Regions from separate parts of the Homo sapiens genome. Here regions 1, 2 and 4 are each linked to region 3. Evidence: fine-mapped expression QTL. A gene starts in region 3. Each other region holds a variant in brackets. All regions are shown on one strand. Distances are between the middles of the regions.

Region 1 (5,792 bases), 35 kb before region 3:
TGGATCACAAGTCAGGAAATCGAGACCATCCTGGCTAACACGATGAAACCCCGTCTCTACTACAAATACAAAAAAATTAGCCGGGCGTGGTGGCACGCGCCTGTAGTCCCAGCTACTCCGGAGGCAGAGGCAGGGGAATCGCTTGAACCCGGGAGGCGGAGCTTGCAGTGAGCCGAGATCGCGCTACTGCACTCCAGCCTGGTTGACAGAGTGAGACTGTCTCGAAAAAACTCAAAAAAACAAACAAACAAACAAAAACATTCAGGAGATTTGCAAATGCCAACTGAACTCTTGGCACTTTCCGTTTATTTTAGGTTTCAGTTCTTCAGTCTACAAAGGACTCTTCTAAAAGGATATGTGTTGCTAATACCCATCTTTACTGGCATCCTAAAGGTAGGTTTTATTTGGTATCACAAGTGACTTAAACACGCTTAAAGTTGTTTAAAGTGTTTTACACAAATGCATATCTTGAACGTCACCCAGAGACTGTAATTTGTGTAGTTTTTCTTTTTTAACTTAAAGACAACTTTAAAAAATACTTACATTAATGTTTTTTATATTCATAGGTGGGTATATTCGCCTCATTCAAATGGCAGTAGCCTTGGCTCACATAAGACATGTTTCATGTGATCTGTATCCTGGCATACCAGTTATATTTTGTGGGGACTTTAATAGTACACCATCAACAGGAATGTATCATTTTGTCATCAATGGCAGCATTCCAGAGGATCATGAAGACTGGGCTTCCAATGGGGAGGAGGAAAGATGCAATATGTCTCTTACACATTTCTTCAAGCTGAAAAGTGCTTGTGGTGAACCTGCTTACACAAATTATGTTGGTGGCTTTCATGGATGTCTAGATTACATTTTCATTGACTTAAATGCTTTAGAGGTTGAACAGGTGATTCCATTACCTAGTCATGAAGAAGTTACCACCCACCAGGCCTTACCTAGTGTTTCCCATCCCTCTGATCACATAGCACTTGTATGTGATTTAAAATGGAAATAGATGTGTGTTTAATGGAATTGAAGTCTGAAAAGGAAGTAGTTATTTTAGCAGAAAATTTAATATGAATCAAAGCTTATATGTAAACTTCAAGGAGGAATGGTAAAATGTTCAGCCCTCCTAGTTATGTTCCTGATGTCTTCGTTATGAAACTGTTGATGTTTGCATCATACATCTTCTCTTTCCTTGTTTTCCTCTACAATTGGAGGAGAAACAAATATATTTCTTACTAGCAAAATAGAAAATTGAATTATTTTTCTCCAAATTGAGACTCTCAGAAAAGGAAGATTGAATTAGCGTGTTTTTTGTTTGTTTGTTTTTGTTTTTGTTTTTGTTTTTTTGAGATGGAGTTTCACTCTTGTTGCCCAGGCTGGAGTGCAATGGCACAATCTCGGCTCACTGCAACCTCCGCCCCCTGGGTTTAAGCGATTCTCCTGCCTCAGCTTCCCGAGTAGCTGGGATTACAGGCGTGCGCCAACATGTCTGGCTAATTTTTGTATTTTTAGTAGAAATGGGGTTTCGCCACGTTGGCCAGGCTGGTCTTGAACTCCTGACCTCAGGTGATCCACCCACCTCGGCCTCCCAAAGTGTTGGGATTACAGGCGTGAGCCACCGCACCCGGCCCTTGTGTACATTTTTATAAGAGAATTTTTTTAGCTAGGAGTTCAGAATTTTTAAAGTACCATTTGAATGATCTTAATTTTTCTTTCATGACAACACATTCCAAAATGAATCATGCTTATGTACTAAGAGGGAAAATGTATTTAAGTTAAGGGTGAGAGACTTAAGTTATAGGTGACCTTAGAGACCTAAGGTGAGAGACTTGACACATGGAAGGAGTAACATTAGGGTCTACCTCTACCTCAATTTAGTTAGCGATTTACTACAATTTCAGAGCTTTAACAAAAGATAAAAATAAATCGTCACCAATTGTTATTGCTTCTCATCTTTCATTTTTCAATGAACAAGTAAGGTATTTTCATTCTTATTTTTAGGATTTTAGTTTTTAGTGTATGGTACAAATGAACACAGTTTATATTCTAATTCTTACTGCAGCTCATTTTAATTTTTAGGATGCAAGCACAATTTAGTATTCAAAGTGAGTAGCAACATATTCAACTTGATCCCATTGTCTTCAGTTACTCTTGCCCATGAAAAATGTTCATAAATGAACAGGGTATTTGACCATATGATATTAGAAAATACAGCACATTACTTTATGAGAAACTACCTACTGATATGGGCTTGAAATTTTGGATGAATCATTGAGCATTTCTACACTAGAAGTAATTTCAAAATTGTTGGTTTTTATAAACAGGAAAAAGGTTGAGTAGTGGGACTTTTAAGCATCTCTGAAATAAAAAACTTCTTTTTACAGACAAGCATTATAGTTTGAGTTACAGACAACAGTGTGTATATATGTAATATATATATAGTAAAATGAAATTTAAATATGAAGCCAAACTTTTTAAAATTAGAAACTACAAATGGTTATACTGATTAGTGTCTAGCCTAGAGTGGTAACCATGCTTTACTAATTCAGTTATGAAATACATTATTTATAATGCATTAGCTGTATTAGCTGTTGCTTTTTTGATGTTCAGGATAACTATGTTATCTCATTTCTGCATTTAATTAATAGCTCGAGTATTAAAAGCCCACTCCCTTCAAGAAAAGCTTTGATTTTCCCCAGTCATGAAAGCCCTTGTTTCAAATTCTTTAATCTCTGAACCTAGTATCATAAGAATTTCCTCTTTTGATAACATCTGTACTTTCATATTCTGCTCACTATCAAATGTATTGTTAACACTTAGTAAGTTTGAAAATGAAGGGGTTTTATCTGCATTTGACATTGAACCTTGAAGTACTTTAAGTACTCCAAGGGGAAAATTAAAGTGGAAGTTTCTTCGGATCTTGTTTAGAAAAAACTATAAATAAAAAATTGATGCTACCAAATTGTGCCTTCCTAAATAACATTTTTGAGAGCATTTTAACAGCAGTTTACAAATATGTAAATAATAGATTAAAACCAAATCTTGATTCTCTTGTGAATTTTTTTTTCATTTTAAAAATATGTTTTTGGGCTGTTTTCAAAGAAAGATGTTGATAGAACCCTTAGAGTGACTTGGGAGAAAACAAAGTGTCACATCAAAAAGTTGAGAAACATTTTGAAAGAAAAAATTCGAACATGCCCATGAAAAAAGCATACAGCTTCCACATTAACACTGGCTAGATTAAACTCTAGTCAGAAAAACTCAGCACTTAACAGACATTCCATGTCCTATATCCTTAATTTTGATGTTTTCTGACTAAACAATATACTCAGATTGTATACAGGCATTTCACATTATTAGGACATGGAATGTTATTGTGAAGTGCCATATACTGTGATCAAATCTCCAGTATA[C/T]GGATACGTTAAAATGATTGGAGTCCAAAGGTAGGGAACACTAAGAAAATGTATAAATAGCATACACATTTCTTTGTACTCATGAGTTAGAATGCAGTGTTATTCAGAAATGTCTGTTTAAAGCACCTATGTGATTGCATTTTTCTATTACATTTGGATTTTTTAGTACATTTAATTTTAAGAAAACATGGGAAATCTAGCGACTTTCTATGGTAAACCACATTTTATAATGTCACAAGTTCTTGCTATAGGAATTAACATTCTAGAATTTTATATTGATTATAAAAGAGTATTTCAGAACATATTATTCTGTTAAAATGAACTCTTGCACAGTTGCCGCTACAGCAAATGTGTCTGCCAATAATCAAAATTCATGAGCAAACAATCGTTTCTGGCTGTAATGTATGTTCTTTTTGAAATTCTGTATGCTAAAATCAGTTGTTTCAAAATTTCAAGAATTCCACTGAGTAGTGATTTTTCTGAGTACTAAGCTATGATCTCATCAGAATGTGCTGGTTTCAGTCTGGAGATAGATTTCTGAGGAGCCTAATACAAGGGAGAGAATGTCCAAAGAACACTACTGTGGAAAGTTCTTACGATGGAAATTGACATCTTTTGTATCTCATTCTCCAGCCGTGAAATAAAGGCAGAGGTTCCCTGCAAACTAGTTTGGTTGGGATAAATCCAATATTTATATATAATGAAAAATAAAAGTTTGCATTATTAGTTTATCACAAGACCCATGTGACAACTCAGAAAATATTCTCAGCATAATTTTTTTAAGAGATAGAGTCTCACTGTTACCCAGGCTGGAGTGCAGTGGTGCAGTCATAACTTACTACAGCCTCAAACTGCGGGGCTCAAATGATCCTCCTGCCTCAGCGTCCCAAGTAGTTGAGATTACAAGCCCAACCTTCCATAACTGAAAACTAACTTTCTTTTTTTCTTTTTTTATTATTATACTTTAAGTTCTAGTGTACATGTGCCCAACGTGCAGATTTGTTACATAGGTATACATGTGCCATGTTGGTTTGCTGCACCCGTTAACTCGTCATTTACATTAGGTATTTCTCCTAATGCTATCCCTCCCCCAGCCCTGAAAATGAATTTTTTAAACACAAATAAAAAATATTTCAGTGTTTTGAGAATTTTAATAATTTGCTTAATATAGTACAGGAAGGCAACACTATCTAGAGGGCCAGGCATAGTGGCTCTTGACTGTAATCACAACATTTTGGGAGGCTGAGGCAGGAGGATCACTTGAGCTGAGGAGTTCAAGACCAGCCTTGGCAACATTGTGAGACCCTATCTCTGCAAAAAATAAAATTAACCAGGCATGGTGGTGCATGCCTGTAGTCCCAGCTGCTCAGGAGGCTGAGGCCAGAGGATCACTTGAGCCCATGAGGTCAAGCCTGCAGTGAGTTGTGATCAAGGTGCGCTGCACTCCAGCCTGGGTAATAGAGCAAGACCCTGTCTTCAAAAAACCACTCTAGATTTCATGTTGTAGGGGGTAGGGAGGACAATTTTTAACAGCTTTAACTGACATGGGTAATATATAAGTTCTGTGTTCTCACTTTATATGAAAGTACTTTTTTAAATGTTAAAAATACTAGAGCTGTATTAACTTCGTGATTTTATTTTTCTTCTTAGCACTAACTTCAAAATAACCATACAGTACTGCTTGTAATTTTTGTATTTTTAGTAGAGACAGGGTTTCACCATATTGGCCAGGCTGGTCTTGAACTCCTGAACTCAAGTGATCTGCCTGCCTCAGCCTCTGAAAGTGCTGGGATTACAGGCATGAGCCACGGTACCCGGCCTAAATTTTAATTTTATATATAAATGGCAAAATAATCTTAAATATAGTAAATCTGTTCACCTATCTGCTATGCTAGCAAATTCTGGGTTGTCAAAAATCCATGTTCATACTGTCAGTGTTAGATTTTTACTCATAATTTAAAATTTCCCCGCAAAATTTCACAGAAAACTGAATTATTCATCTCTATCTTCTGTCCAATTTATGTAATGAATGTATGTCAAAGCATTTATATAACACAGTCCATTTTGCCCAGTAATTCACTTTAATGATGTTATCATGAAGTATTGATGTACTTTTTTTTTAGTGTATTGAAGTATTCCTAGGTTGCATTTGTGCTAGTTTCATACCATTTGTGTTCCTTATATATTGAAGATGGTTCAGTAGGGGAAATGGATAGGCTTTATTTAGTTGGCTTTCTTATACTGGATAATATAAACACTTTTTTTTTCTTTTTTGAGACAGGGTCTGGCTTTGTCACCCAGGCTTGGAGGGCACTGGTGCCATCACGGCTTACTGCAACCTCCACCTCCTGGGCTTATGCAATCCTCCCACCACAGCCT
Region 2 (5,000 bases), 120 kb before region 3:
AGCGGACCTAATAGGCATCTACAGAACTCTCCACCCCAAATCAACAGAATATACATTCTTCTCAGCACCACACAGCACTTATTCCAAAATTGACCACACGGTTGGAAGTAAAGCACTCCTCAGCAAATGTAAAAGAACAGAAATTATAACAAACTATCTCTCAGACCACAGTGCAATCAAACTAGAACTCAGGATTAAGAAACTCACTCAAAACCACTCAACTACATGGAAACTGAAAAACCTGCTCCTGCATGACTACTGGTACATAACGAAATGAAGGCAGAAATAAAGATGTTCTTTGAAACCAACGAGAACAAAGACACAACATACCAGAATCTCTGGGATACAGTCAAAGCAGTGTGTAGAGGGAAATTTATAGCACTAAATGCCCACAAGAGAAAGCAGGAAAGGTCCAAAATTGACACCCTAACATCACAATTAAAAGAACTAGAGAAGCAAGAGCAAACACATTCAAAAGCTAGCAGAAGGCAAGAAACAACTAAGATCAGAGCAGAACTGAAGGAAATAGAGACATAAAAAACCCTTCAAAAAATCAATGAATCCAGGAGCTGGTTTTTTGAAAAGATCAACAAAATTGATAGACCGCTAGCAAGACTAATAAAGAAGAAAAGAGAGAAGAATCAAATAGATGCAATAAAAAATGATAAAGGGGATGTCACCACCGATCCCACAGAAATACAGACTACCATCAGAGAATACTATAAACACCTCTACGCAAATAAACTAGAAAATCTAGAAGAAATGGATAAATTCCTCGACACATACACCCTCCCAAGACCAAACCAGGAAGAAGTTGAATCTCTGAATAGACCAATAACAGGCTCTGAAATTGAGGCAATAATTAATAGCTTACCAACCAAAAAAAGTCCAGGACCAGATGGATTCACAGCCGAATTCTACCAGAGGTACAAGGAGGAGCTGGTACCATTCCTTCTGAAACTATTCCAATCAATAGAAAAAGAGGGAATCCTCCCTAACTCATTTTATGAGGCCAGCATCATCCTGATACCAAAGCCGGGAAGAGACACAACAAAAGAAGAATTTTAGACCAATATCCCTGATGAACGTCGATGCAAAAATCCTCACTAAAATACTGGCAAACTGAATCCAGCAGCACATCAAAAAGCTTATCCACCATGATCAAGTGGGTTTCATCCCTAGGATGCAAGGCTGGTTCAACATACGCAAATCAATAAATGTCATCCAGCATATAAACAGAACCAAAGACAAAAACCATATGATTATCTCAATAGATGCGGAAAAGGCCTTTGACAAAATTCAACAGTGCTTCATGCTAAAAACTCTCAATAAATTAGGTATTGATGGGACGTATCTCAAAATAATAAGAGCTATCTATGACAAACCCACAGCCAATATCATACTGAATGGGCAAAAACTGGAAGCATTCCCTTTGAAAACTGGCACAAGACAGGGATGCCCTCTTTCACCACTCCTATTCAACAAAGTGTTAGAAGTTCTGGCCAGGGCAATCAGGCAGGAGAAGGAAATAAAGGGTATTCAGTTAGGAAAAGAGGAAGTCAAATTGTCCCTGTTTGCAGATGACATGATTGTATATCTAGAAAACCCCATTGTCTCAGCCCAAAATCTCCTTAAGCTGATAGGTAACTTCAGCAAAGTCTCAGAATACAAAATCAATGTGCAAAAATCACAAGCATTCTTATACACCAATAACAGACAAACAGAGAGCCAAATCACGAGTGAACTCCCATTCACAATTGCTTCAAAGAGAATAAAACACCTAGGAATCCAACTTACAAGGGACATGAAGGACCTCTTCAAGGAGAACTACAAACCACTGCTCAACAAAATAAAAGAGGATACAAACAAATGGAAGAACATTCCATGCTCATGGGTAGGAAGAATCAATATCGTGAAAATGGCCATACTGCCCAAGGTAATTTATAGATTCAATGCCATCCCCATCAAGCTACCAATGACTTTCTTCACAGAATTGGAAAAAACTACTTTGAAGTTCATATGGAACCAAAAAAGAGCCTGCATTGCCAAGTCAATTCTAAGCCAAAAGAACAAAGCTGGAGGCATCACGCTACCTGACTTCAAACTGTACTACAAGGCTACAGTAACCAAAACAGCATGGTACTGGTACCAAAACAGAGATATAGACCAATGGAACAGAACAGAGGCCTCAGAAATAATGCCGCATATCTACAACCATCTGATCTTTGACAAACCTGAGAAAAACAAGCAATGGGGAAAGGATTCCCTATTTAATAAATGGTGCTGGGAAAACTGGCTAGCCATATGTAGCAAGCTGAAACTGGATCCCTTCCTTACACCTCATACAAAAACTAATTCAAGATGGATTAAAGACTTAAATGTTAGACCTAAAACCATAAAAACCCTAGAAGAAAACCTAGGCAATACCATTCAGGACATAGGCATGGGCAAGGACTTCAAGCCTAAAACACCAAAAGCAATGGCAACAAAAGCCAAAATTGACAAATGGGATCTAATTAAACTAAAGAGCTTCTGCACAGCAAAAGAAACTACCATCAGAGTGAACAGGCAACCTACAGAATGGCAGAAAATTTTTGCAATCTACCCATCTGACAAAGGGCTAATATCCAGAATCTACAATGAACTCAAACAAATTTACAAGAAAAAAACAAACAACCCCATCAAAAAGTGGGCAAAGGACATGAACAGACACTTCTCAAAAGAAGACATTTTTGCAGCCAAAAGACACATGAAAAAATGCTCATCATCACTGGCCATCAAAGAAATGCAAATCAAAACCACAATGAGATACCATCTCACACCAGTTAGAATGGCGATCATTAAAAAGTCAGGAAACAACAGGTGCTGGAGAGGATGTGGAGAAATAGGAGCACTTTTACACTGTTGGTGGGACTGTAAACTAGTTCAACCATTGTGGAATTCAGTGTGGCGATTCCTCAGGGATCTAGAACTAGAAATACCATTTGACCCAGCCATCCCATTACTGGGTATATACCCAAAGGATTATAAATCATGTTGCTATAAAGACACATGCACACGTATGTTTATTGCAGCACTATTCACAACAGCAAAGACTTGGAACCAAC[C/A]CAAATGTCCAACAATGATAGACTGGATTAAGAAAATGTGGCACATATACACCATGGAATACTATGCAGCCATAAAAAAGGATGAGTTAATGTCCTTTGTAGGGACATGGATGCAGCTGGAAACCATCATTCTCAGCAAACTATTGCAAGGACAAAAAACTAAACACCGCATGTTCTCACTCATAGGTGGGAATTGAACAATGAGAACACATGGACACAGGAAGGGGAACATCACACACCGGGGACTGTTGTGGGGTGGGGGGAGGGGGGAGGGATAGCATTAGGAGATATACCTATGTTAAATGACGAGTTAATGGGTGCAGCACACCAACATGACACATGTATACATATGTAACTAACTTGCACGTTGTGCACATGTACCCTAAAACTTAAAGTATAATAATAAAAAAACAAAGCTGTGCAACATTGAAAAAAAAAAAAAAAAGAAATTCCAAGCTAAAATTACTGTAAAAATCAACTGGAAACCTCTAGAAGAGGACAGGGGAGAAGGAGAGGCATGGCGATCAGAAAGTTATATGCAGAGTCCTGGGGTGCTGACAATATCCTATTTCTTGGCCTAGGTGGTGGCAATATAACCGCTCAATTTACAGCTATTTGTGTAACTATATATTTTATACATCTTCACCATGAAAATAATATTTCACAATGAAAACAAACCAAAATATGCAAATTAAAATTCCTTACCTGGATCCTTAAAATCAACTCTTCGATTCCTACAGTCCGGGCTTTTTCTACATAAGATATCAGATCCATCATCTCTTCTGTTGTTTCAGGGACTTTTAATGCATGTTCTTTAATTGCTTCAAATTCACTGCAAATACTGACATAATACTCTGCTTTAATAGACTTATGGCAATTAATGTTATATCATATTCAATAAATGTGTGTTATGACGATTACTATAAAATAAGAACTATGATATCCTAAAAAAATTGCTTGATTCACTAAGGTATCTTAAAAATATTTAAGCTTGGCCAGGCACAGTGGCTCACACCTGTAATCATAGCACTTTGAAAGGCCAAGGCAGGCAGATCACTTGAGCTCAGGAGTTCAAAACCAGCCTGTGCAAAGTGGTGAAACCCTGTCTCTACAAAAAAAAAAAATACAAAAATTAGCTGGGCATGGTGGCACATGCCTGTAGTCCCAGCTACTTGGGAAGCTGAGGCAGGAGGATCACTTGAGCTTGGGAGGTTGAGCTACAGTGGGCCATGATTGCACCGTTGCACTCCAGTCTGGGTGACAGAGTGAGACCCTGTCTCAAAAAAAAAAAAAAAAAAAAAGCTTATCTGCTATAATTCAGTATATACTATACATCAACAAAACCTACAAAATTAAGGTAATATTTACATGCAAAATTATGGCATATTAGAAAAAAATTTTAGCGACCTCTTCAACTCTCTTAAATACCCAGGTAACACTCATCTTTCTGGATTGTTGTAATACAACAATGAATGCAAAGGGTCTAGCACATAGTACACTCTATTTACTGATAACTATAATCATTAGTATAATTATTAGTTTTATTATTATTAGTGCCTCTTGTGAAACATGACAGTACAGCAAGTAAACAGATCAAACCCTCAAACTCTTATACATAGTTTCTTTAATTAACAGTTCTCTTAGAATATCCCATGTAGGATATGAACCTAGATATCCTACAGCATTATTCAACTAAAGTTACATTTCATGGAATTTTTTCCTGTGCTTTAAAATATCTGGGCCAAACTAATCTTTGATAAAGCATACAAAAACATAAATTGGGGAAAGGACACCCTATTCAATAAATAGTGCTGGGAAACCTGAACAGCCACAGGATCTCCATCTCTCACCTTATACAAAAATCTCCTCAAGACGGATCAAAGACTTAAATCC
Region 3 (5,792 bases):
GCTATGTTGACCAGGCTGGCCTCAATGTGATCCTCCCAACCTGGCCTCCCAAAGTGCTGGGATAATAGGCGTGAGCCACCACACCTGGCCAGAAGCTATTGCTTCCTAACTCGAGCAGTATGGGCAATATCATCACTTGCATAACTTACCCTTATAACTAGTACATAATTTCTGTCAATCAATAGTTCAGATGATGTTAAATTTGATACACTGTGTTGGTTTTTTAATTACAGTTAACTACAAGCTAACTTCCAATATCTTTTAAAGTTACTTGAACTTTTGAAGAACAGCAGGTGTACGAATTAAATTTAAAACTTCTCCATAGTAGTTTGGCAAACCTGACACATCAGCTAACTGCTATCTCCTTTATACTTTAAAATGGTAAAGTCTGAATAAAACACTGACTCAGGAGGGCATGAATCTTATCTAAGCTTTATAAAGAAAAACGAAGCACACTAATGTAAAACATTAATAATTCCAACAGTTGAATGGGGCAGACACTTTAAAAGTGATCTATTATTTTTGCTGTCAGTCACTCATAAAGCCAGACAGAAAAATGTAAGAATTATCAAACTTCCAAACCACCTTTTTCCCTGTTCATGCACATATCTCCCTCGTACGTTGATACTTCCTTTGATGAGTTACCATAAATGTCGATCTTGTGACTGAAGTGTTTTTTAGTCAAGGAAAACTGATTATCCCAAAATTAAAGTGCAAAACGATAGCATGCCTGAGTAATAAAACATTAAAAACAAGTAACTCCTAAATCCTCCACACAAATGCAGAAACTTAAATATTTTTTCTCTCCCATTTTCTTCGAATCATTTTTTGGGGTGGAGGGAAATGCCTCCCAATATAGTAAATATATGAAAATGCTGGTAGCATACTTCTATATTCCTTGCCCCTCTGATACTTTCATCAATCACAAAAGACTAAGGAATTGAAAAATAGCAATTCATTTACAATAAATCTTAAGTAAAAAGACCAATATACTATGTGTTCTGGAACATAACCATATATTGTTAAATCTCTTTAACGAACAGACTGGAAATTCATTTATCACAGTCCGAAGTCCTCCCATTAACTTCCGATCCTTTTTCAGACTGCCAACTTTCAGCCACTGAAAACTTAAATATGCTTGCCCTCCTAAAATAATTCTGTCCTCTTGACAAAGGAAATCTAAGAAACTTTGAAAGAAAAAATACTTTATGAATGACTCATAAACAATTGATTCACAAAGTGTAAGTACGCTAAGAGGAAAATAAACATGAGCCAATGTATATACTGTTACTCTTTATATACCTTGAAATATTACAGAAGCTTGTGTTTGCAAGTTTTGATGGTAGTACAGCTCTAAAATAAAACCTCCGGCCGGGCGCGGTGGCTCACGCCTGTAATCCCAGCACTCTGGGAAGCCTGGGTGGGTGGATCACCTGAGGTGAGGAGTTCGAGACCAGACTGGCCAACGTGGTGAAACCCCCGTCTCTACTAATAATACAAAAAATTAGCCAGGCGTGGTGTTGCATGCCTGTAATCCCAGCTACTCGGGAGGCTGAGGCAGGAGAATCTCTTGAACCCGGGAGGTGGAGGTTGCAGTGAGCCGAGATTGCGCCACTGCACTCCAGCCTGGGTGACAAGAGCAAAACTCCGTCTGCAAAAAAAAAAAAGGAAGAGAAAAATAAAACCTCCTCCGGTAGAAAACAAGCTAATGAACCAACAAGTTTCAACGTTCAAAGTTAGAGGGGCTTCTTTCAGCGTTATTCTAGTCCATGGAGCTCAGCTGTGATGTAGACTGCTTACAGTAACCGGGAGCGGTTGCTTACTTCAGCCAACTGACAGCCCTTCTCCCTCAGCTGAGCAAAAACACGCCCCCTAAAAAGTAGTTTTTAAAAAGTCAACTTTCTAAAAAGAAATTTTAAAAAAATTGTAGTTACTATTTAACAAGACTACCATAAAATTCAGCGTCATGATGTTCAGTTACTTGAAAATTTATCAGGTATTTTTTAAAAATTCGTTTCTAAAATTTTTTTGCATTAGACCTTAGACCGCCTAAAAATAAGCTTAAAAACCTAGGAGAATAAACCAAACACATTTAAAGTTTTTGAAAATAGTCAAAGAAATAGAAGATAAGCTCAGTTTTCGGAGAATGAGATTAACAAGGAGCGAAAAACTTGAAACGGAATCCAGCGCAAGGCCAAGTTTAGCAAAGTGAGCGCTGAAGGACTCCAGACTCTTCGGAAACCTTGGGTGCTCCCTGGCCACCGCAACTTCCTGCCCCGGGCGGCTCCAGGCTCCGGGTGGCCGCTGGCTTACATACCAATGGAGTATGCAGGGACTGTACACGAAACGCAGAAGGGGAGGGAAAAGGCTGGAGTTGCTCTGCCTCCCTCCTGACCGCTGTCCACACCCGGGCAAGAAGGTATGCAGATCGCACCCCCAGAAAGGGCCTCGCCAAGTGTTTGCTTCCCAGAGTTGGCTTTCCCCACATCTCTGCCCAATGTTGTCCAGCTTTCAATAAGATCAAGGAGAAAAAGCCGAGTCCAGAAAGAAATCTTGCCCGAAGCCCTGTCCCTGTCTCGTCTGGCGACAGATCGGGGGCGGGGGGGATCGCTCACCCTCCGCTCCATTGTTCCCCCTTAAGAATTCCTTCCGACCCCCGACCCGGCGCCCCTCCCCCACCACAGCGGGCGGAGGAAAAAAACAGGCCCAGAGGCCACCCCAATTGTGGAGACCCTGCCTTTCCCAGGTCCCGCCTGACTCGCAGCCCCTCACTCACCCATCAAAATGCGCATCTGCTTCTTGCCAAATAGTCGGGAGAAGAGGGAGGAGATAGTGAGGCCCATGGCGGTAGTGGCACTTGTGATGGGCAGAAGCAGAAGGGGTTTGGGGCGACCCCGTGCTTTCTCCTTTCAAGCTCCCAGGCAAACTAAACGAGAGGGAAGAGAAAGAGCGGAGGAAGAAAGAGGGAGGCAGAAACGTCTCAGTGGCCCCTGTGCCGATGAAGATCCGGCACAGGAATAAGCCGGTAGAGGACCTGCTAGGCGACTGGCGCGGCAGCTCCGGCTCTAGCCTTTAGGCTCTGGCTGTGCCACGTCACGCGGCGGCCGCGGCGACTCCAGCAGCGGCCCGGCCCCTCCAACGCGGACAGAATCGCGTCACCGCCGCCCCATCCCCCTGCGCTTCCGGTGCGCCCGAGCCACTGCGCTTGCGCCTGCAGGGGATTGGCCAGTTTCGCTGACGAGCATCTCTCGACGGCGCCACCGCCCGGACGTGGCCCCAGGAGCCGGGAGAGGCCGGCTGAGGCACATGCGTACTGGGAGACGGACAAAGTCCCACAATACCTCGCTTCGTCACTGCCAAATCAGACTCAGGGTGAGACGCTTCCGCCCGGATGAAGGTATTGTCGGGGTGATAGTCCTTGCTTCCGGAAAGGCGAGCTGAGCATTATGGGTTAGGTGAGGAACCTCGCCCTCTTCTATTACGGTACGCGCGATGGGTATTCCCTGATGCCATGAACTTACACGTTTCACACACGGGACCAGACGCTTGCTTTAGTTGACGCATGAAGACCGGTCCGGTCTTTTGCGGAGAAAAGTGGTTAAAAGCTGACTTGTGGGCCGAGAAACTGTGGCACCCTAATGAGCTAGGGCTAGACGCTTCGACCACCACGCCAAGTGATTCTGAAGATCTCTAATTCTGTCAAGGCGAGAGCGCTCCAACACGTGTTCATCGGCTGTTGCTTTTTAAAGAGAAGGCAAGGAGGAAGTCTTGCTTTTCTTGTACTTTTTTTCCTAGAAGCAGCATTAAAGATTTACTCCTTATGTTGAGGAAGCGGAAAGCCTCTTCACTTTAAAAGTGTTTATGATCGGGCCTGGCGCGGTGACTCACCGCGCCCGGCCTGCTACACCTTTTAAAATTCACAGCAATGATAAATGTATTAGACTCATTGCCAGGATAAAGATTTAATCTATTTTTCTAGTAGTGCCGTCCTATGTGGTTCTGTAGTTGCTTATTCCAACTGGTATATTTCCATAGGATGGGGTTGAATAAGAAAAACTTGCAAACTTTCAGAAACAGTAAGTTATTTTTATATTTTTGAAGGCTTGCTGAGTAACGCTTCTCTTGGTAGCACTACCTTATCTACCCTTCAGAGACTGTTATTTCTTAGGAGTGGCCCTGGGCAATTAAAAGCAAAAACTTCTGGCCGGGCATAGTGGCTCATGCCTGTAATCCCAGCACTTTGGGAGGCCGAGGCGGGCAGATTACGAGGTCAGGAGATCGAGACCATCCTGGCTAACACGGTGAAACCCAGTCTCTACTAAAAATAGAATAAATTAACCGGGCGTGGTGGCGGGTGCCTATACTCCCAGCTACTCCGGAGGCTGAGGCAGAAGAATGGCGTGAACCCGGGAGGCGGAGGTTGCAGTGAGCGGAGATCGCGCCCCTGCACTCCAGCCTGGGCGACAGAGCGAGACTGTCTTAAAAAAACAAACAACAACAACAAAAAAACCCCAAAAACTTCTTTACTCAGAAGTACCCTCCTTTGCATTGGAGATACATGTAAAGAGTTGCTTAGCAGTTGAATAACTCAAAATTGCATTTTGGAAGCTTGCTAAGTGACAAGACCTTCTTGTATCCTTTTGTGAACCCCCAAAATATGAGACAGGCCTCAGTTAATTTAGAAAGTTAATTTTGCCAAAGTTGAGGACACGCGTCCATGACATAGCCTCAGGAGGTCTTGTAGACATGTGCCCAAGGTGATCAGAGCACGGTTTGGTTTTATACATTCTAGGGAGAAATGAGACATCAATCAATATATGTAAGATGAACATTGGTTCATTCTGGAAAGACTGGACAACTCAAAGCAAAGGCAGGAAGACTCTGAGTGGGGAGGGAGCTTCCAGGGCATAGATAGATAAGAGACAAATGGTTGCATTCCTTTGAGTTTCTGATTAGCCTCTCCAAAGGAGGCAGTCAGATATGCGTTTATCTCAGTGAGCAGAGGGGTGACTTTTTAAAGAATGGGAGGCAGGTTGGCCCTAAGCAGTTCCCAGCTTGACTTTTCTCTTTAGCTTAGTGAGGTGGAGGCCCCAAGATTTATTTTCCTTTCACACTTTAGGCCTTATGTCTGTTTTTAGTTTTATATAGTAGAATTCCTTAAAACAATCTTCAACTAATTCTTAGGGTCTTCTTAAATTCAAAAGACAAACCGTATGAGCCCTCCTCCCTGTAACTTATTCCAAATCTTAATCCATGTTTTCTGTTTAGTTATGCAAAATAAATCGAAAGAATTCTGTTCTCCATCTCTAGCCTCCAAAACCTGAACCAAAACAAAAGTTGTCAAAACAGATTTTTCAGTAAGAATACACTACACATCAAGTGGCTAATGTAAATTACAAAACAGGATGTTAATGGCAGACTGTAATATCTCTATTGTACAGATAAAAATAATCAGGGTCAGAGAGATTAAATATTCTGCCCAAGGTCACACAGCTAAAAGCAGTGGAACAGCTATAAGAACCCATTTCTTCTGGTATTAACTGGTATTTACACTCTTTTTTTTTTTTTTTTTTTAATAAATAAGTGGATTCTGGCTATGTTGCCCAGGCCTGTCTGGAACTCCTGGGCCCAAGCAATCCTTCCACCTCAGCCTCCAAAGTGTTGGGATTACAGGTGTGAGCCAGTGCACCCAGCCATTAACACTCTTAACCACTACACTATACTACCTTCTTACATTTATTTATTTATTTATTTGAGACAGGGTCTCACTTTGTCACCCAAGCTGAAGTACA
Region 4 (5,792 bases), 25 kb before region 3:
GTTTCACTCATTGCCCAGGCTGGAGTGCAATGGTGCGGTCTTGGCTCACCACAACCTCCACCTCCCAGGTTCAAGCAATTCTCCCACTTCAGCCTCTCGAGTAGCTGGGATTACAGGCATGCACCACCATGCATGGCTAGTTTTGTATTTTTAGTAGAGATGGGGTTTCTCCATGTTTGTTAGTCAGTCTGGTCTTGAACTCCCAACCTCAGGTGATCCACCTGCCTCGGCCTCCCAAAGTGCCAGGATTACAGATGTGAGCCACCCCACCCAGCCTAATACTTTCTTTAAAAACTATAAAAATTACCTGGGCATGGTGGCTCATGCCTGTAGTACCAGCTACTTGTGGGGCTGAGATGGGAGGATCACTTGAGCCCAGGAAGTAAAGGTTTCGGTGAGCCAAGATCCTGCCACTGGACTCCAGCCTGGGTGACAGAGTAAAACCATCTCAAAAAAAAAAAAAAAAAAAAAAAGGTAATTTCCAATGGTACTAAGAGCTGCTTTACATCACGAGTAAGATTACATAGATTCTCTAGTCCCTTTACAGTCCATGTAAACACCTTTGCATAACTAGGTTAAATACCTAGCCCTAACGCTGAACTTATTCACTGATGTTTTATATTTCCTAGTTGATGCCCCATAAGACTACACACACAACAATTATACTATAGTTCAGTTTTATCCTATAGGAAATGACACCTGTCTTCTTTGGAAGGAAGAAAGGAGAATTCATCCAGTTGGCTAGGGAAATTGCATTTCTAACAAGTAACACAAACTAAACATACACTTTGCCCTACCTAATCATCAACCAATTCTAATTTCCTTTTGGTTAATCCAGTGTTTTTTTTTTTTTTTTTTTTGGAGACAGAGTCTTGCAGACCGTGTGCAGTGGCGCTATGTTGGCTCACTGCAACCTCTGCCTCCCAGGTTCAAGCGAGTCTCTTGCCTCAGCCTCTCAAGTAGCTGGGACCACAGCATGCACCAGCACACCAGACCCTTTTTTTTTTTTTTTTGTATTTTTAGTAGAGATGGGGTTTCACCATGTTGCGGCTGGTCTTGAACTCCTGAGCTCAGGCAATCTGCCCACCTTGGCCTCCCAAAGTGCTAGGATTACAGGTGTGAGCCACCACGCCTGGCCATTGTTATTTATTTGACAATTCAAAAATATACATTTTTTTAAAAGTATGCATTTGATTTTGGAATTTTCAATCCATAAATTTAGCTGAATCTTTACAAGCCATTAAGAATGCAACATGAGAATATAGACAGAAACTAAGTTACTCAGTTATCAAGTTGAGCCCTTAAAACTTAATAGATGTAGTTTATGAGGTATACCTTTGTATGAATTATATGCAGCTTTCTGTTAAAGTTCTAAAATTTGCCCTGTTAAAAAGAAAAGTGGTTGTGAAACTTTTTTGTAGGAAAGTAGCATCACTAAGTCTCTATATTGGCCATACAAGTAGCACCTGAATTTTTTTGTTTAATTAACCTTAACTAAAAAACACATACATACATGCTTTTTGGGCAGTTCATTTTATTACAGCCTTTTACTCTCCCTACCCCACTCCACATGCCGCCCCTCCCCACCCCCCACCTGATTTTTTTGTTGTTGTTGTTTTGTTTTTAGTTTTTTAAGTAGAGACAGGGGAAACAGGGTCTTACTACATTGCCAAAGCTGATCTCAAACTCCTATTCTCAAGTGACCCTCCTGCCTCAACCTCCTAAAGTGCTAGGATTACAGGCGTGAGCCACCATGCCAGGCCCTCCTTTTACCCTTGATCTGACTTTAGAAAACTATGTTTTTAATAGTGTTCCCCATGCTGTTATACACATGAAAACAATCTAGATCTCCACTTTATACAATTAGTAACCTACCAGTGGGATCTGTGTTACTGTTCACAGTACATAAAATATGCAAGCAAAGTTGGCTACATAAGAAAATACATTTCAAATACCTTCAAAACTCAAAAAGAACACACACAATTACGTATTTTATCATTTTATTAGGAATAATTCCAAATGGGTTATGAAGAAAATGTATTCATCGAATTTGATGAGTTTTCCAAAAACTCTTAATGAAGATATGTCTGCCCAATAAACAAAACATCAGCAGAACTATCATATACTGAGCAAAAAATCAGGCTGATAACAAAAGCAACATGCAACATAAAAAAGACACAATATAAAGGAAGACAATCTGCTGAGTATTAAAAACCATCTAAATATCAATTCTTTGCAACCAGCACAGAACTAATTGGCTATCAAATCCAAACCCCACCAAGGTTAAGTTTGGCTGATGTAGGCCAGGAGTCAATGTAGGGGGAAAAATTTCCTCAG[T/C]GCAAGAGAGCTGAGTAGTGTTTTGGATCTTTCTCTGGCTGGTACAAGCAGTATTAGAAAATCTTTTTGGCAAGGGAGAGAAATAAATACAAATGGAATGCTACATTTTTAAATTAGCAAACTGTCTCAGGAATGATAAAGGTATCAGTAAAGTAGCAAGGGGATAACTTTAAAACATTATTTGTCTGGGGCTCAAAAAACACTCAAAACAATTTATTTAAAGGTTGCACAAGAGCTATGTCCAGGCATTTACGCTTATGGGAAGTAAAATTAAAAGAGGATACTTTTTTCCCAAGGAGAATTTCTTTAAAACCAAGCACATTGCTAAATAGCAACATTATACTCGGTAAACAATAATTGGCAACAAAATAAGTTTAATATTCTGCCCAAACCAGTCCCAGATACTGTTTAATAACCAAGATACAAACTAATTTTGTTGTAACAAGCCTAGACCAATTTTATCAAACATGTCCTTGGTTAGATATCCAATTTCATTTAACGTTTTGAAAGCTCATTTGACAGCCAGTCAAGTCCTTCATACAGACCAGTTCCTTGTGTTGCACAAGTGGCTTGAACATACCACTGTAAAGAGAAGACAAGAAAATACTTGATTAACAAAGTTAATATATAACACCAGTGTTTAAACTTTCTTAATCAAACTTAAGAGTCTTTTCACACCTCTTGCATCTCACAAAACTCTCCCATATTTAAAGCTACTTCTGGCTGGGCGTGGTGGCTCACACCTATAAATCCCAGCACTTTGGGAGGCGGAGATGGGAGGATCACTTGAGCTTAGTAGTTCGAGACCAGCCTGGGTAACATGGTGAGACTTTGTCTCTACTTTTTTAGATTAAATTATTTTTTAAAAATAAAGCCACTTCTACCTATTCTGGAGGTTGCAGTGAGCCGAGGCTGTGCCACTGCACTCCAGCCTGGGCGACAGAGTGAGACTCCGTCTCAATCAATCAAGCTACTTCTACCTATTCATTATATTTAGACAAGATTTTCCCCCCTCATTCAGCTTTCTTTTCAGTGCTGGTTTTTGGTTCCCTTTTAGTAAACTTTCTACCACTTAATCTGAAAAAAGAAATCATGGGGAAATTAGTAACTAATAAACTACCCATCTGGTTTTTATAACTCTCGTTTCCCATAAAACTAAACTCAAAGTAGAAGAGGCAAATTTTTGAAAGAGTAGGGTTTGTTAGGCCGGGCGTGGTGGCTCACACCTGTAATCCCAGCACTTTGGGAGGCTGAGGCGGATGGATCATGAGGTCAGGAGATCGAGACCTTCCTGGCTAACGCAGTGAAACCCTGTCTCTACTAAAAATACAAAAAATTAGCCGGGCGTGGTGGTGGGCGCCTGTAGTCCCAGCTACTCAGGAGGCTGAGGCAGGAGAATGGCATGAACCCAGAAGGCAGAGCTTGCAGTGAGCCGAGATCGTGCCACAGCACTCCAGCCTGGGTGACAGAGCAAGACTCCATCTCAAAAAAAAAAAAAAGAAAGAAAGAAAGAGTAGGGTTTGTTGATATTTTAAGGGCAAGCTTTTCAGACAATTTCACCATCTTTAGTCTCATGCATTCCAAAACGTTCTTGCTTTTAAATGGCAACGAATCTTATCTCTAGTAACTGTGTGAAAGTATCAAAAAAAACCTAGAAAACAATTTACATTTAAGGCATAGTTTACTTTTATTAATTTTTTTGACCAGTTTAATGTTGCAAGGCCACTGCAGGTATACCATGTTGCCAATTATTTGAATACCAAATCTCAGTAACCTAGGAGGCTGGGGAAAGGCTCAAATTCATACCTTCACAGCATGGAAAACTTGTATCATTTACAGTTAGTGTTGCTTGCTTATTTATTGATTGATCGACTGATTGTTTTGAGGCAGAGTACTCACTCTTGCCCAGACTGGAGTGCAGTGGCGTGATCTCGGCTCACTACAACCTCCGCCTCACAGGCTCAAGAGATTCTCGTGCCTTCAGCCTCCCAAGTAGCTGGGGTTACACACATGCACCACCACGACCAGCTAATTTTTGTAATTTTAGTAGAGACAGAGTTTTACCATGTTGCCCAGGCTGGTCTCGAACTCCTGGTCTCAAGTGATCCGCCCACCTTCGCCTCCCAAAGTGCTGGGATTACAGGTGTGAGCCACCACACCCGGCCCAGTTTATGTTCTTCAAATCAGCCTGAGATATCTCAAACAGGCAATAGGTTGTTTTTTTTTGTTTGTTTGTTTGTTTTGAGACGGAGTCTCGCTCTGTCACCCAGGCTGGAGTGCAGTGGCGTGATCTCGGCTCACTGCAACCTCTGCTGCCTGGGTTCAAGTGATTCTCCTGCCTCAGCCTCCAGAGTAGCTGGGCTTGCAGATGCCTGCCACTGCACCTAATTTTTTTGTAGTTTTTAGTAGAGATGGGGTTTCATCATCTTGGCCATGTTGGTCTTGAATTCCTGACCTCATGATCCACCCACCTCAGCCTCCTAAAGTGCTGGGATTACAGGCGTGAGCCACTGCACCCGGCCTGCAATAGGTTCTTTGTTGTTTGTTTCATTTTTTACCACAGCCACAGTATTTCCCTTATTTACAGGTTAATGCAAAACTACTGTAAAAAGCCTATGACACTAAGTTTCTGATAATTTATCTCCATCACTGAATCACTGATCAATGATAAGCAATTTTAGAGAAGTACAAATTTTTTTTTTTTTTTTTAAAGAAACAGTCTTGCTCTGTCACCCAGGCTGGGGTGCAATGGGCACAATCACAGCTCTCTGCAGCCTCCAACTTCTGGGTTCAAACAGTCCTCCCACCTCAGCCTCCCAAGTAGCTGGGACTAAAGGCACATGCCACCACACCCAGCTAATTTTTATTTTTGTAGAGATAGGGTTTCACTTTGTTGCCCGGGCTGGTTTGGAACTCCTGGCCTCAAGCAATCCTCCTGCCTTGGGTTCCCAAAGTATTGGGATTACGGGTGTGAGCCGTGGTACCTGGTCTCCTCCATAAACTGTTATGTTAACAAGCAAACAAGGCTGGGCACCATGGCTGGAATCCCAGCGCTTTGGTAGGCTGAGATAGTGAGAGGATTGCTTGAGTCCAGGAGTTCAAGACCAGCCTAGCAACAAAGCGAGACCCCCCATCTCCACTTTTTTTTTGAGACCGAGTTTCGCTCTTGTTGCCCAGGCTGGAGTGCAGTGGCGCGATCGCGACTCACCGCAACCTCCACCTCCTGGGTTCAAGTGATTCTCCTGCCTCAGCCTTCCTGAGTAGCTGGGATTACAGGCATGCGCAACCACACCTGGCTAATTTTGTATTTTTAGTAGAGACAGGGTTTCTCCCTGGTTGGTCCGGCTGGTCTCAAACTCCCGACCTCAGATGATCTGCTCACCTAGGCCTCCCAAAGTGTTGGGATTACAGGCATGAGCCACCGCACCCAGCCCCCCATCTCCACTTTTAAAACA

Alleles and levels. Positions count from the first base shown, and alleles are read on the strand shown. Sizes are in standard deviations (SD) of each study's normalised expression. Not every link is listed here.
For the expression in whole blood of the gene that starts at base 3,047 in region 3, C is the high allele of the variant in region 4 and T is the other (large effect, 1.4 SD a copy in Lepik 2017).

The links. PIP is the estimated chance that this variant, and not a neighbour inherited with it, causes the effect.
Region 1: its variant is fine-mapped to the expression of ARF4 in whole blood (INTERVAL, PIP 0.97).
Region 2: its variant is fine-mapped to the expression of ARF4 in whole blood (INTERVAL, PIP 0.91).
Region 4: its variant is fine-mapped to the expression of ARF4 in whole blood (Lepik 2017, PIP 0.95).

What each region holds. Positions count from the first base shown.
Region 1 is chr3:57,558,996-57,564,787 of GRCh38, forward strand. PDE12 (phosphodiesterase 12) reads left to right here. Exons shown (of 3, transcript NM_177966.7): 2 at 315-393; 3 at 567-5,792. The coding sequence ends at 1,009. Among named protein-coding and RNA genes, the nearest start is that of PDE12, 5.6 kb to the left of the region's middle. The variant C/T (reference allele first, on the strand shown) is at 3,414.
Region 2 is chr3:57,479,564-57,484,563 of GRCh38, forward strand. DNAH12 (dynein axonemal heavy chain 12) reads right to left here. Exons shown (of 74, transcript NM_001366028.2): 13 at 3,813-3,948. Among named protein-coding and RNA genes, the nearest start is that of DNAH12, 62 kb to the right of the region's middle. The variant C/A (reference allele first, on the strand shown) is at 3,108.
Region 3 is chr3:57,594,298-57,600,089 of GRCh38, forward strand. It overlaps ARF4 (ARF GTPase 4), which reads right to left and starts at 3,047. Exons shown (of 6, transcript NM_001660.4): 1 at 2,777-3,047. The coding sequence starts at 2,843. ARF4-AS1 (ARF4 antisense RNA 1) reads left to right here and starts at 3,492. Exons shown (of 2, transcript NR_132370.1): 1 at 3,492-3,754. It also overlaps a transcript of PDE12 not described here. RefSeq lists enhancers at 2,451-2,500, 2,521-2,670, 2,584-3,783, 2,659-3,364, 2,701-2,750 and 4 more.
Region 4 is chr3:57,569,380-57,575,171 of GRCh38, forward strand. ARF4 (ARF GTPase 4) reads right to left here. Exons shown (of 6, transcript NM_001660.4): 6 at 1,984-2,919. The coding sequence ends at 2,833. It also overlaps a transcript of PDE12 not described here. Among named protein-coding and RNA genes, the nearest start is that of PDE12, 16 kb to the left of the region's middle. The variant T/C (reference allele first, on the strand shown) is at 2,338.